Regions from separate parts of the Homo sapiens genome. Here all the other regions are linked to region 1. Evidence: fine-mapped expression QTL. A gene starts in region 1. Each other region holds a variant in brackets. All regions are shown on one strand. Distances are from middle to middle. Region 1 holds the start of LINC03066 (long intergenic non-protein coding RNA 3066). Region 2 has its middle 8.8 kb from the start of LIRIL2R. Region 3 has its middle 38 kb from the start of LIRIL2R.

What was found. PIP is the estimated chance that this variant, and not a neighbour inherited with it, causes the effect.
Region 2: its variant is the best candidate, but not a certain one, in a credible set for the expression of LINC03066 in testis (GTEx, PIP 0.66).
Region 3: its variant is the best candidate, but not a certain one, in a credible set for the expression of LINC03066 in prefrontal cortex (BrainSeq, PIP 0.85).

Annotation. Positions count from the first base shown.
Region 1 is chr6:203,478-208,701 of GRCh38, reverse strand. It overlaps LINC03066 (long intergenic non-protein coding RNA 3066), which reads left to right and starts at 3,218. Exons shown (of 8, transcript NR_126020.1): 1 at 3,218-3,815.
Region 2 is chr6:168,939-174,162 of GRCh38, reverse strand. It overlaps the pseudogene ANKRD18FP. Among named protein-coding and RNA genes, the nearest start is that of LIRIL2R, 8.8 kb to the left of the region's middle. The variant T/C (reference allele first, on the strand shown) is at 2,120.
Region 3 is chr6:140,010-145,233 of GRCh38, reverse strand. It overlaps the pseudogene SEPTIN14P6 and the pseudogene CICP18. Among named protein-coding and RNA genes, the nearest start is that of LIRIL2R, 38 kb to the left of the region's middle. The variant A/G (reference allele first, on the strand shown) is at 2,394.

The sequences.
Region 1 (5,224 bases):
CATTTCCACACCTGTGCAACAGGGCTGCGCTCTGTCTGAGAGACTAGAGGGTCACGTCGGATCATGAATAGCGTTTGGAACTGCTAAACACGCATTCAGTAATCTCATTTGTCAAGGATGGGAGCTCAGACCACAGGGCCTGTCTGAGACACAGCTGGGAAGTTTTTTTCTAGTTTCCCTTTTCTGAAAATCTGCTCCCACTCGGTGGTTTCTCCTGCCTACCACTGGCACCCAGCGTCTGGATATGTTGCCTACTGCACTGCCTACCAAGAACGCGTCAACGTTATCCCCATGTTGTGTGAGAGCAGGAAAAGAGGGTCTCCATCTTCGAGCTGAAGAGTCTTTCCCAGAGTGGATGTGCAGCCACCACCTGCCCAGGGGGTATTTTCCCAGAGCATCATTTCTACTCTACAAAGAATTTTAAATTTTGTGGGGTTTATTTTGTTTGTTTGTTTGTTTGTTTTTTGAGATGAAGTCTTGTTCTGTTGCCCAGGCTGGAGTGCAGTGGTGTGATCTCGGCTCACTGCAACCTCCGCCTACTGGGTTCAAGTGATTCTCCTGCCTCAGCCTCCCGAGTAGCTGGGATTAAAAGCATGGGCCATCAGGCCTGGCTAATTTTTGTATTTTCAGTAGAGACGGGGTTTCACCATGTTGCCCAGGCTGGTCTCGAACTCCTGGCCTCAGGTGATCTGCCTACCTTAGCCTCACAAAGTGCTGAGATTACAAGCATGAGCCACTGCACCTGGCCAAATTTTGTTTTTATATTTAAAAATACCTGGACATATGGCCAGGAGCAGTGGCTCATGCCTGTAATCCCAGCACTTTGGGATGCTGAGGCGGGTAGATCATTTGAGGTCAGGAGTTCAAGACCAGCCTGGGCAACATGGTGAAACCCCATCTCTACTGAAAATACAAAAATTAGCTGACTGTGATGGTGGGTGCCTGTAATCTCAGGTACTCAGGAGGCTGAGGCAGGAGAATCACTTAATCCGGGAGGTGGAGGTTGCAGTGAGCCAAAATCATGCCACTGCGTGATCTGTCCAGCCTGAGCGACAGAACAAAACTCTGTCTAAAAACAAAAACAAAAAACCTGGACATACCAGAAAATAAAATGCAGAGGTCATTAACATTTTTAGCTTTTCTTTTCTTTTTTTTTTTTAAGGAACCTTAAAGAAATGCTTGTGTTTAAGACAAACAGGCACTCCACATGATTCCCCTAAGCTCTGACGATGTTTATTTGGGTACAGCCTCCTCAGTTTATTTGCCTGGGGAGGAAACTAAGGCCCAGAGAAGTGAAGAGACTCTCCCTCCTCATGGCTCTGTCCTCTGCGAGGAAGAAGCATGGACGTTGCTGTCACTTTGTCTCCAACGCACCCTCAGTGCCTAGAACAGTGACTGGTACCACTCCCTGGCATCACTCACTAAGTGCAGGTTGAGTGTCCCTTATTTGAAATACTTGGAACCAGAAGTGTTTCAGATTTCAAATTTTTTTTGATTTTGGAATATTTGCAGAATTCATTCTGGCTGAGCATCCCTAATCTGATATCCAACATCCAAAACGCTCCAGTGAGTGCCTTCTTTAAGGGTCGTTTTGGTACTAAAACAGTTTTGGAGCATTTTGTATTTTTGGATTAGGGATGCTTAACCTGTATTTACTGAATAACTCAATTAATTTTAAGAGGCGAAAGGACCCATAAAGCCTCTGAGTTGCCTAGGAAGTGGCCACATTAACTCCAAGGATGAGGCGGACACCTTCTCGGGGCAGGATCGAACTGTTTCTGATCTTCAGCATCTGGCCCCATAAAATGAGAAGGGTTTTGCCTTGGGGTGAAACTGACCCTGGCATCTCCCTGGAGATGAAAAGCTCCTTATTTCCTAAAGATTCTTCTCAGAGCCAGAGGAAGTATGCTGAAATAGTCACAGTGATCATTTCTCATGAAGAGATATGAGTTTTACCCTCTTTTTAACTTTCTTCCTAATTTTTAAATAATAAGGTTGTATCACTCACAAAATAAGAATAACTTTATAGCACTCTGTATACATACATATATATGTGTATATATGTGTGTGTGTATGTATATATATATGTGTGTGTGTGTAAAGTCAGCAACAACAAGCCTTCCCCAAAGCGGCACACTGTCTGCATTTCTTCAGTGCCAACGTGAGGCACTTATGGGCATCCCCAGGGACTTGTGCGCCAGGCAGCTCCCATCGGCCCCGACGGCCAGTCCTGCCCACATGTGTGACATATATGGTGCTCCCAGACCTCCAAGGTTTGGTAAGAAAGAAAAACACTTGGACAACACACAGCCAGGCCGTGAACGTCACTTAGAAACGGGACCCATAAGAGCGACCTTCCCTGCTTCTCACGAGCCAGTGCATGCCCACACCAGTCCAGGCCTTTTCTTCTTCTACTGAGTGCTGCTTCCCGTCTCAGCTGATAGCACCACCACTCGTAGGTGAGTCCCTGTTCAACAGAACTCAGAGCTTTGCATCCATGGAGTGCCATGAACAAAAGTCACCGGTGTTTCTTAGGGAGAGAACTGCTTTTGCTCAGGGTCAGGATGCCCCACCTGCTTGGGGTGGGGAAGTTGAAGCTGGAGGAAGAGCTGGCTGCTCTGCAGAAGTTCAGAGGAATTGGAAGATGGGGCCAGGGAGGATGTGAGGAAGGGGAGGAAGGCAGAGACGGTGCAGGTGACTCAGCAGGAGGCTGGAGTCTAGAGGGAGAAGCTCCTTGACTGGGGTTGCTGAAGGGGTTTTAGAAATGAGGCTGTCAAAAAACATCACAGCTGCCTACTGCTTAATTTCTAGCTGACTCTGTGTTTCTAACCGTCTGTAGAGACTCCACACAGATAAAGCCCCTGTGCCACGGATTCTAGGGGGACGGGGCAAGAAGCCCAGTGCCAGGGTAGGAAGGAGGCCTTGGGAGGGGAGGCTGAAGAGTGAAAACTCAGGAGCAGATGCCGGGAGGCAGAAGTGACATCTGAACACACAGCCTCCGAGACAGTCCCTGGGTGGGAGACACTGAGGTTTCTGTTGTGCGCTGGATACGGCTTAAGCCTAATTTTACCTCAAATTTCAAAGGCCAGGGCGATCCAAGCTGATATTTGAGTTCCATTACCAGGCATATTCCTTACAACAAGAAGAATGTAAATTCTGTGGAAATTCTAGAACTTCTTTTTTACATTTAAACACAATTCCTTTGTTCCCATATCCTGAAATCAGTAAATTTAAGCAATTTTATTTTTCATTCTGTGCTTCAGGGATCTATGAGGGTCAACACATATTTATCACACGCTGACCTTGTGCTCAGGCCTATAGGAAAATGAACCTCCCTGCCCGCAATGACCTTAGAACCTAACTAAGGATATGGTTAAAACAAGCGCAGGATTGGGTGAGACCTGCTCAAGGGTCAGGCGCTGGTTTGTCGGGGAGAAATGTTGCCCAGGAAGGACAGGTGTGAAAGAAAGAGAAGATCCTGCAAGACCGGAGGGCCCAGGAAAGTCTGGGGGACTCAAAGGAGAGTTTCAGGATTGACCATGGGTGGACAGGGCTCTGCAGACCAGGATCTTTTCTATGCACACTTGGGGCCAGAAAGTTCTTTGTGGTGGGGGCTGTCCTGTACAATGCAGGAAGCTCAGCAGCATCCCTGGCCTCCACCCACTCAATGCCAGTGGCACTCCCTCCCTAGTTGTAAATGTGTGCAGACATTAGTACTTGTCACCTGCAGGGAAGAATCACCCCACTGAGAACCACATGCTGAGTCAAGGCAACAGCATAGGAATTGGAGCACGCAAGAGAGCTGGTCAACACAGGTGAGCTCTTGTGTGGGCCTCTCTATGGGCCTCCAGCCAGTCCCCAGACAACTCTGCTCTGGGCACCAGTGGCCACGTTCTCAGGGCAGGCACTACTGGTGATCATTCTACTCACACCTCTCTCTGGCATCAATGGCCTGATTACACACTGGGGATAGTAGGTAGTAGGTATATTTAGAGGGGCACAAAAATAACCGTGGCTGCCAAGCCAAAAAATTCAGAATTGCTCTCCTTAGTACAGGTTTAATATCGCTAATCTGACTTCAGAGTTTTGGATTAGGGATGCCAAACTGGTAAGTATAATGCAAAGATTCCAAAATCCAAAAAATCTGAAATACAAAACACTTCTGGTGGCAAGCATTTGGGACAACAAAGTGTGGTATATTTCTGATGAGATTTTGTCGTGTTTCAGAAAAATTAATTTGATAGTGATGTGCCCAATTGAATGCAAGGAAGGAGCAGGGTTTTCTGACCTGGTGATTGTGGATACGCCTCAGGAGGCTGATGACAATGAAACTGCGCCATCATTGTGTGGGTTCATTTGCTTTTCTGAGGAGGGATTCCATAGATTTCATCCGACACTCCACAGGTTGAGAGCTCTTGGATTCAACTGGTGCCCAAACACAAGACAGGACCACCAGTGCATATTTGAATAGGACAATCCTTCTGCCCATCCATCTGGTCCCTGCTTCCACTTCCCACAAGCAAACATCCAGTCCACAAAACTCATTGAGCAGCTGCAGTGAGCTGTGTGCCAAGCATGTGCCAGGGACTGGAGCTGCAAAGAGAGATGGAGGCCACAGGGAAGAGGCCACGAGATAGTCAGTTGTCTCATGAAGTAGAATACAGGTGAAGCCAGATTATCACAAGCCATGAAAACCTTCTGGAGGTGACGTCTGAGCTTTGTCTTGCCAGTTGATCTCGCTAGAATACATACGAAGTAAAGAGGGGCCTGGAATTGCTGGTGGCTGAGGAAATGGGAGAGGAAAAAGCATGCCGGACAGTCACGGTGCAGGAAGCCCTCATCACTACTAAGACTTACTGACTAATCGCACACGGGGGAAGGAAGCTTGGGTGGCCGTGAGTCAAGGATCCAAGCCTGGAAGCCTGCAGACAATACTGACTGGGGTTGGCAGCAGAAAGGGGAGGACGTTTTGAGTGGGAAGACAATGAGTTTTGGTTTTAGATATCTTGAGTTGAAGGCAATGAGAGGATACCCAGAGACTATTCAGAACATCTTGAGAGGAACTGGGAATACAGGACTGCTGCTGGGGACATGTCAGGGAAAGAGGTGGGCAGAGAGGAAATGGGTCTGTTTTCTCAGGGGCAGTGAGGGGCACCGTCGAGCCAGCCTTCCACAGCTCTGGTTTCTCTGGGCACTTTCTTTCATGGGCTTCTTTGTGGGTCAC
Region 2 (5,224 bases), 35 kb after region 1:
TGGATATTAGTGGTCTATTATTTGCTTTTTGCCTTTGCTTTTGATGTCTTACACATAAAATCTTGGTGCAGACTAATGTCCTGAGGCATTCTCCTATGTTTTCTTCTAGTAGTTTGATAGTTTGGGGCCTTACATTTAAGACCTTAATCCATTGTGAGTTTATTTTGGTATATGGTGTCTGGTTTTATTCTTCTCCATTGGCTATCCAGTTTTTCCAGTGCCATTTATTGAAGAGGGTGTCCTTTCCCCAACGTATGTTATTGGCACCTTTGTCCAAAATCAGTTGCCTGTAAATACGTGGATTTATTTCTGGGTTCTGTTTTCTATGGCCTTGACCCAAAGAATCATTACTTCTTGAAATGCAATTCAAATTAGCATAAAACATTTGAAGTTTAGGGAAAAGCTAATGGCATTAGAATCCTCATAATCTGTATTAGTCCATTTTCATACTGCTGATAAAGTCATACCTGAGACTGGGTAACTGATAAAGAAGAGAAGGTTTAATGAACTCACAGTTCCATGTGGCTGGGGAGGCCTCACAATCATGGCAGAAGGTGAAAGGCATGTCTTATGTGGCAGCAGACAAGAGAGAAAGGAGCGCCAAGTGAAAGGGAAAACCCCTTATAAACTCATCAGATTTCATGAAACTTACTGACACAAGAATAGTATGGGGAAAGCCACCCCCATGATTCAATTATCTCCCACGGGGTTCCTCCCACAACATGTGGGAATTATGGGAGCTACAATTCAAGATAAGATTTGGGTGGGGACAAAGCCAAACCATATCATTCTGCCCCATCCTCTTCCAAATCTCATATCCCCACATTTCAAAACCAATCATGCATTCCCAACAGTCCCCCAAAATCTTAACTCATTTCAGCATTAACTCAAAAGTCCACAGTTTGTGGACTCATCTGAGACAAGGCAAGTCCCTTCTGCCTGTGAGCCTGTAAAATCAAAGGCAAGTTTGTTACTTCCTAAATACATTGGGGGTACAGGCGTTGGATGAATACATTCATTCCAAATGGGAGAAATTGGCCAAAATGAAAGGACTAAAGGCCCCATGCAAGTCCAAAATCCAGCTTAACAGGCAAATCTTAAAGCTCCAAAATGATTGTCTTTGACTCCATGTCTCACATCCAGGTTATGCTGATGCAAGAGGTGGATTCTCATGGTCTTGGGCAGCTCTGCCCCTGTGGCTTTGCAGTGTACAGCCTCCCTCCTGGCTGCTTTTATGGGCTGGTGTTGAGTGTCTGTGGCTTTTCCAGGTGCATGGTGTAAGCTGTTGGTGGATCTAGCATTTTGGGGTCTGGAGGATGGTGGCCCTCTTCTCACAGCTCCACTAGGCAGTGCCCCAGGTGGGGACTCAGTGTGGGGGCTTAAACCTCACAGTTCCCTTCCACACTGCCTTAGCTGAGGTTCTCCATGAGGGCCCTGCCTCTGCAGCAAACTTTTGCCTGGACATCCAGGCATTTTTATACATCCTCCGAAATCTAGGTGAAGGTTCCCAAACCTCAATTCTTAACTTCTGTGCAACCACAGGCTCACCACCATGTGGAGGCTGCCAAGCCTTGGGGCTTGTAACCTCTGAAGCCACAGCCTGAACTGTACCTTGGCCCCTGTTAACCATATCTAGAGTGGCTGGGATGCAGGGCACCAAGTCCTTGGGCTGCACACAGCAGTGGGGGCCTGGATACCTACAAAACCATTTTTTCCTTCCAGGCCTTCAGGGCTGTGATGGGAAGGGGCTGCCCAAAGTTCTCTTACATGCCCTGGAGACATTTTTCCCATTGTCTTGGTGATTAATATTTGGCCCCTTGTTATGTATGAATATTTCTGCAGCAGGCTTGACTTTCTCCTCAGAAAAAAATCTTTTCTATCACATTATCGGGGTGCAAATTTTCTGAACTTTTATGTTCTGTTTCCCTTTTAAAACTGAATGCTTTTAACAGCACCCAAGTCACCTCTTGAATGCTTTGCTGCTTAGAAATTTCTTCCACTAAATACCCTAAGTCATCTCCCTCAAGTTCAAAGTTCTACATATCTCTAGGGCAGGGGCGAAATGCCACCACTCTCTTTGCTAAAACATAGCAAGAATCACTTTTACAGTAGTTCCCAA[T/C]GAGTTCCTCATCTCTATCTGAGACCATCTCAGCCTGAATTTTATTGTCCATATCATTATCAGCAGTTTGGTCAAAGGCATTCAACAAGTCCCTAGGAAGTTCCAAACTTTCCCACATTTTTCTGTCTTCTTCTGAGCCCTCCAAACTGTCTCAACTGCTGCCTATTACCCAGTTCCACATTTTTGGGTATCTTTACGGCAGCACACCACCCTACTGGTACCAACTTACTGTGTTAGTCCATTTTCATGCTGCTGATAAAGACATACCTGAGACTGGGTAATTGATAAAGAAAAAGAGGTTTAATGAACTCACAGTTCCACATGGCTGGGGAGGCCTCAGAGTCATGGCAGAAGGGGAAAGGCATGTCTTACATGGTGGCGGACAAGAGAGAAAGGAGTGCCAAGTGAAAGGGGAAACCCCTTGTAAAATCATCAGATCTTGTGAGATATATTCACTACCACAAGCCCAGTACGGGGGAAACCACTCCCTGGATTCAATTATGTCCCACCAGGTCCCTCCCACAACATGTGGGAATTATGGGAGATACAATTCATAATGGGATTTGAGTTGGGATACAGCCAAACCATATCATACTCCTTATTTACAGGACGCATTAATTTGTCTTTTTTTGAGATATGATCTTTCTCTGTCAGTCAGGAAGGAGTGCAGTGGTGTGGTCATGGCTCACTGCAGCCTTGAACTCTGGGTTCAAGCCATCCTCCTGCCTCAGTCTCCCAACCAGCTGAAACTACAGGAATGCGCCACCATGTCTGGCTAATTGTTTTTAACTTTTTGTCATTGTTTTTAACTAATTGTAATTGTTTTTAACTAATTGCTTTTAACTTTTTGTAAAGATGGGGGTCTCACTATGTTGCTCTGGCTGGTCACAAACTCCTGGCCTCAAGTGATCGTTCTGCTGCAGCCTCCCAAAGTGCTGGGATTGCAGGCATGAGCCACCACACCTGGCCTAGATTATTATTTTCAGAGTCTTATTCTGAGAGCCATTTATTGACCTTGGCCTAAATAACTCAATATGATGTCCCTAAAACTTCTTTAGAAATTATTGGGCATGATCATGAAGGAAGGAGATTAGAAACTTTCTACTAAGAAATAACTTAGAGTCATTTAGGGAGGAACAAAAATAAGCAATCAGAAAAATAAAAGTGTAAGATCAAGTGCAAAAGTTCTGTGGCAAAGATGATAAAAGTAACTAATATATCTTTTTGACTCTTGGTGGCTTTAACTTTGTTCTTGATTTTCTGAGTAATTTAAGCGTTCACGTTGGAAGAATCTACCGCATTATAGATAACATTTTATTGCAAGTAAATGTATTTCAAAATTTGTTACTGGTTTTATAATAAAATAGTGTCAGCCTACTTCATTATCAAGCTGTACTATTTTATTTATGCAGTTTGATGAACTTACAGCAGAGCTGGAAACTATATCTTCAAAAATGTCTATATTTGGCTAAAAAGAATCAAGTTATTCAACAGGAGTTATTATCTATGAAAGAAGTACAACAGAAATGTAAAAAACTTGAGGAGGTTAACAAAATTTTGGAACAAGAAGTAGTGAATCTTAAGACACATGAAAAAAATATGGTAGAATTTGGTGACGTAGAAGAATGTAAATTGCAGTTGGAAGAAAGAGCAGGACAGGAAATAGAAAAATTAGAAGAAATCAATTTACAGGTTAGTTTTTTTAATCAGGTAGGTTTATCTGTAATGTGCTTTCATTTATTTCACTGCAAATTATAATATAGACATACAGTGTTTTGTCTGCCTCTCTTATAGGAATTTGCTTTGTAGAGTTTTAGAAAAAAAGGTGGCACCTGTTTCTTATTTTAAATATTTAAATTTCCATCATGATTATAACTAAGTTGATCTTTCAGAGTAGTGAGTTTCACTATACAGTCATTTGGTTATTAAAACCAGTTAGCATAAGACTATTAGAAAAAGAAAACTCTGATTTAAAATTATATGGTACTTTTGAATTGGTCTTACGCTACATTGTTCAGTTTTTAACATTTCCAATGGATTCTATTATTTTTAAATGATTAGATTACATGAACACTAACAAGAATGATTTCAAATTTTTATAATTCATATTTAATTCTGAATTCTGTTATCAATTTAGATGAAATTGCTAATAGATGTTTTAAACTTCAGCCCCTTTTTAAAACACATATTTAAAATTGCTTTCTGAATCACTGACTCAAAATGAAAGGCAACAAATAGAGACTAATTAGGTTATAATTGTTTTAAAAGTATGATTTTTTATTTGTTTTAGAAACAAGCAGAATATGAAAAACACAGCAGTTAAAAGAGAATAATATGGCTTTGATGAATAAAAGAGAACTCTGACTGAAAGACGTGGAATGTCAATTCTCCAAAATGAAAACCGCTTATGAAGAGCTTACTACGGAATTAGAAGAATATAAGGAAGTCTTTGCAATAACATTAAAAGCTAACAAATCCATGTCAAAAAATTTAAAGAAATAAGTCAAAACATACACTTGTAGAAAATCAATCAAGTTCATTAATTTGCCATGAAAGCATAATTTTTAGTGAGACAACTTCATGAGATTAGTAGGAAGTGAAAGCTATCCTGATAGTATAATTTTTGAAAATAATGCTAGTAAATAAACTTACATTTAAAATGTTAGTCAAGGACAGTTTCTGTCTCTTCCCTCATTTTTTTTTTAACTTTTGTATGGCCTTTTCCCCTGAAAAATCTTACGTAGTTAACCTAGTCTATTAGTCTTTTAGCATTTTTGAAGCTTTATGGTCAATAAAGTGATCTTGCTGTAAAATTACTTTTCAGAATTCTTCTAAATGGAAATATTAATGAATTTAATTTGTTTTTTAGTAGGTCACAATCTAAACTCAAAGTGCCCAAACTACTACTATTCTGGGCACGTCCTGGCATTTAGTAACTTAACTTTCCTGATTGTGATTTTTAGTATTATCACTAGAGGGCGCTTTGAGACAAACTTTTCTGTATAGTTTTTTCAGTCTACAGGAAGACATGCTTGTGAAATAGGGAATGATTATCCTAGGGATGAAAGAAAGTGTAATTTACAAAGTTGTTTAAAAATAACACCT
Region 3 (5,224 bases), 63 kb after region 1:
AAAAGAGGAAGGCCTTACTCCGTCCCAAACTGAAAGGATTAAATGGCTTCACCTGGGAGAAGATAACCATCCTGCCCTCCATTGCTACCCCCACATACTGTCCATGTTCTCAGGGGGTACTGTGAGTCCTGGGATCTTTGGGGTTGCCCACCTGCCTGTGGTAGTTATGGAGACCCCCAGGTGTTGAGGCAGGGCTGGGGTGTCCCCTTCCAACCAGGCTGTCAAGGCCCCAACTCTGGGGCAGAGGCAGTGGCAGGGCAGCCAGGTTTGTGCCAGAGCCTGAGCAGGTTGAGGTGGGGTCAGGCAGGGCTGGGAGTCAGGGCAGGGGCAGCAGCAGTGGACCCGCTATGCACACATCTTCTTCTCCAAGGTTTGTGTGCAGAACATCCTGCCCATGCTGACCCAGCAGCTTCAGTTGGCACCTGCCCCAGTCCAGCCTCTGGGAACCATGCAGCAGCTCCCAGCGGCCCTGCACCCACCACCAGCATCCGTTTCACCTGCAGTTGAAGATCCGTGAGGTGCCCAGAAGATCATGCAGTCATCAGTCCCACGGAGCAGCCCGCGAGGCTGAGGCTCCTCCCACTGGACCGCCCCCCAACTGGCACCACTGCTGCCCCTGCCCCTACTCTCAGCCTCACGTGACTCTCGGGCAGAGGCAGTGGTGGGGCAGCCAGGGCAGCGTCAAGAGTCTGAGCCAGGTGAGGTGCGGTCAGGACCCCCACAGGGCTGGGAGTCAGGGCAGGGGCAGAACAAACCTTGGAGGGGAAGATGTGTGCATAGTGGGCCTGGAGGGCGGCTGTGGCCTAGTGGACAGGAAGAAGCAGTGGGCCTGGAAGAGCTGCATGATCAGGGCCGGCACTGGTCCAGGGCACGTGCAGTGAAGAGGACAGCTCCTTCTCGGTCTCCGGTTCCCTGAGCCTGTCCTCGGCTTCTCCACCTGTACAGGCAAAGGGGAAGCTGTCCCCATCACACATGGCACACTTGGGGGTGTTGGGCTTTGGACTGCAGCTGGAACATCTTCTCATCTTGCATTTGGGCGTGGTGGGGTCCTCCAGTGTGGGATCCATGTCCGTGGGGTTCCCTCTGCCCCGACCCCTAAAGCCCAGTCAGTTTCTCTTCAGGCTCTGCTCCCCGGGTGGCTCAGCCCAGCTCCTGCCTAGGAAAGCCTTAGTGTTGGGAGGGACCCTGATGACTGAGGAGCCTGGTAGCTCCAGGTCGCCCACACTTTCAGGTCTCTTGCACCAGAAGGTGGCAGGATCCATTGGGAGGAAACAGGCCACCTTGGAAGGCGTCCCTGGGCCCCCATCCCCAGGGGTTGGGGCCGTAGGGGGCCCGCTCTGCTGCGTTGACCAGACTCCTGGGCTTTGAAGGCTCCTGGGCCCAGTAAGAAGGAGGTGGGCGCCAAGGTTGAGGAGGAAGCATCCGAGTATGTGTAGGAGGAGGACAGGGTGTGACCATAGACTGCCAAAAGCTGCAGGTGGATCGGGGGACGCTGGGGGCTCAGGATCCAGCAAGGGGCGGCAGGAGTAAAGGAGGAAGGAATGACAGGTGCAAATACCTTCCCACCAAAGCCCTTGTTGCCCTCTGGCTCCTCCCCAGAGCTGTCCCCACTCTCAGTCGGTCACCCACTCCTTGAACTTGAGATCGGTGTCGGTGGTGCTAAAGCCATCATCAGCAATGACATCATCACCCCCTCCTCCTCATGGATGACCGTGTGCTCCTCGTCACTCGCTGTGTCCTCACTGGCCATGTGCTGGGAATGAGCAGCTCAGGTGGGCAGCAGCAGGGCTGCCCACGGGTCACCTCCCTCACCAGGGGCTGCAAAGTGGCCTGGAGCTCCATGCTGAGTAGAAGGCTTTGGGCCAGAGTATGATGCAGTGCCAGACACCACCTGTGTCAGTTCCCGTAGTGCCTGACGGTCTATTTCCCTGCCGTCCAGGCTGTGTACCCCGCTGTGGGAGAAGGCTTGGGCCAGGCTGAGCCAGGTTCCCTGACTGTGTGCAGCCGTTCTGCCCCACAGAAGCTGCTCCTTGGCATCCGAGCTCTGGAGTGTTTGGGCTGCAACTGACAGGAGTTCAGAGGACGCCCCAGGGGCAGTGGCAGTGCCCGTCTCTGATATGCTCCGCTCCCACGAGCCCTTGTTACACTGCTGCTAGCCCCTGGCTTGTGGGCTTGGCCTCTGAGCTGGACTTCTTTCGGTCCTTGTTGCAAGTGGGCCACCTTCACCTGGAAGGCCAGGTCGTATTTCTGCATCTCACTGGGCCCCAGGGTGTACCACCGCTCGCTCAGCATCTGGCTGACGGTCCGGTTATCCTGGTTGGGGTGACCCTGGTGCGCCCCGCCAGGGCCTGGTGCCGCTTGCTGAAGATCATGAGCGCCACTCATGGGCCACC[A/G]GATGTGGTCCTTGTCCCATTTGTTGGGGCTGCGTCCATCCTTCTCAGAAGATGAGTCCTGTTCCTTGCGCAGGGCACTGAGGGACTGGGCCTGACATCATCTGAGTGGTAGAGGCAACTGGGTGTCAGGAGACATGATGGAGAGGAAAGCATCATCATGGTCATTCTCTGTCTCACTGTCCAGCAGGGACTCCCCTGAGGGGCCCAGGGCTCCTCCTCCATGGTGGGAGGTGAGCTTTTACCAGGTTCCACCACCCCCAAAGTGTGTGGGGTTGCGGGCCCTGGGCTTTCAGGGCAGGTGGCTCCAGGGGGCCGCCCAGGGTCAACACTCCCTGTCCCACCTGGTGGACGCTCATGAGCAACAGCTGGCAACTTGGCAGGTTGTTTTCTCTGGTTGCAGGCCACTGAGTGACTGGCAGGTTGCTGGGCCTCGTGTGGCTGCAGGGAGGGGTCAGGAAGGGGATGGAGTACCAGGGGAACACAGCCGCAGAGTGACCTTCCACATTCCTCCACACGAACATGCTGACGCCACGGGAGGCCTCACTGAACGCAGGCCTGGGGGCCGAGTACTTGGTCCGGGCAGGGGGTTCCTGGCAGGGGCTCACACCTCCTCGCCCCCTCCTCAGCCAAGGTGGCTTGGGCCCAGAGAAGGGGAGGTTGGAGAGGAGCAGAAGGCCAGGCCTCAAGTTTTGTTTTTTTTGTTTGTTTTGTTTTTTGTTTTTGAAATGTAGTTTGACTCTTGTCACCCAGGCTGGAGTGCAGTGGCACGATCTCAGTGGCCTTCATACCTGGCTAATTTTTTGTATTTTTACTGGAGGTGGGGTTTTGCCATGTTGGCCAGGCTGGTCTTGACCTCCCGACCTCAGGTGATCCACCCACCTCAGCCTCCCAAAATGGGATTACAGGCATGAGCCACCGCTCCCAACTTCATTCCTTTTTACTTGAAAAACTCCGTTAAGCATTTTTTTAAGGTAGACCTAGTGGTCCTGAATGCCCTCAGCTTTGTTTGTCGAGGAAACACGTTATTTCTTTTTTCTTTCTGAAGGACAGCTTTGTCAGACATAGTATTAGTTGCTGGCAGTTTTTTTCTTTCAGCACTTTGAATGTATTATTCGATTCTGTCCTGACCTGCAAAGTTTCTTTAACTTTTGACTATTTGATTATATTGTGACTTGGTGAGTATCTATTTGGTTTGAACCTCTTTAGGAATCTTTAAGCTTCATGGATTTAGATGTCTAAATCTTTCCCATGATTTAGGCAGTTTTCAGCCATTCTTTAAATAAGCTTTCTTCTCCTTTCTCTACTTTCCTTCTCAAACTCCCATAACCTGACAATGGTTTGCCTAATGGTGTCTTGTTGGCTTTCTTTTCTCTGTCTCTTTTTTTTTTTTTTTTTTTTTTTGAGACAGAGTCATGCTCTGTCACCCAGGCTGGAGTGCAATGTGTGGTCTCGGCTCACATTGCACTCCAACCTCCGCCTCCTGGGTTCAAGTGATTCTCCTGCCTCAGCCTCCCAAGTAGCTGGGACTACAGGTGTGTGCCACCACACCCGGCTAATTTTTGTATTTTTAGTAGAGATGGGGTTTTGTCATGTTGGCCAGGCTGGTCTTGAACTTCTGACCTCTTAATCTGCCTGCCTCGGCCTCCCAAAGTGTTGGGATTACAGGCTTGAGCCACCACGCCCAGCCTTCTTTTCTCTTTTTTATTCTTTTTTTCTTTGTCCTCTGACTGGATAATTTCAGAAGATCTATATTCAAGTTTACAGATTCTCTCTCCTGTTGAAGTTTACTATTGTGTTATATCACCCAGTCTGGTCTTGAACTCCTGGGCTCAAGCGATCCTCCCACCTTGGCCTCCCAAAGTGCTGAGTTTACAAGCATGAGCCACTGCATCCAGTCAGTCCCAGCACTTTGGGAAGCTGAGGTGGGAGGATCACTTGAGCTCAGGAGTTTGAGACCAGCCTGGGCAACATACTGAGAACTTGTCTGTATATTAAAAAAAAAAAAAAAGTCTTTGGGAGGCCAAAGCGGGAGGATCACCTGAGGTCAGGAGTTCGAGACCAGCCTGGCCAACATGGCAAAACCGCATCTCTACTAAAAATACAAAAATTAGCCAGGTGTGGTGGCACACACCTGTAGTGGTGGTGCATGCCTGTAGTCCCAGCTACTCAAGAGGCTGAGGCAGGAGAATCACTTGAACTGGGAGATGGAGGTTGCAGCGAGCTGAGATTGCACCAGTGCACTCCAGCCTGGGCAACAGAGTGAGACTCCATCTTATAAAAGGAAAAAAGAAAGAAAAGAAAAATTCCATATCTGAGTGTTTACTCCTGAGTTTTTGAGATTGTTATTAAGATCGTGCTCTACTGTGATGATTTGGGTTTGTTTGATAATCAGAAAAAAGCATATTCTTTTGGGTGTTCAGCCACACTGCTTTGGTGTCACAACTGCACATTGGTTTCACAGCTGCAGGACAAATTCGAGCATCTTAAAATGATTCAACAGGAGGAGATAAGGAAGCTTGAGGAAGAGAAAAAACAACTGGAAGGAGAAATCATAGATTTTTATAAAATGAAAGCTGCCTCTGAAGCACTGCAGACTCAGCTGAGCACTGATACAAAGAAAGACAAACATCGTAAGAAGCAATAGTTTCTCTTACTATTCTGAGAGCCTTATCATTCTACATCCCATCTTCCTGTGAGATTGTCTTTGTAGCATTTAACTCTAATTGCAGTTCTCTTTTTAAAAATTGGCTTGCTTATTGTATATTTTCCCCAACTAAAGCGTGAACTCCTAGCAGGGCGTGGTGGCTCATGCCTGTAATCTCAGCACTGTG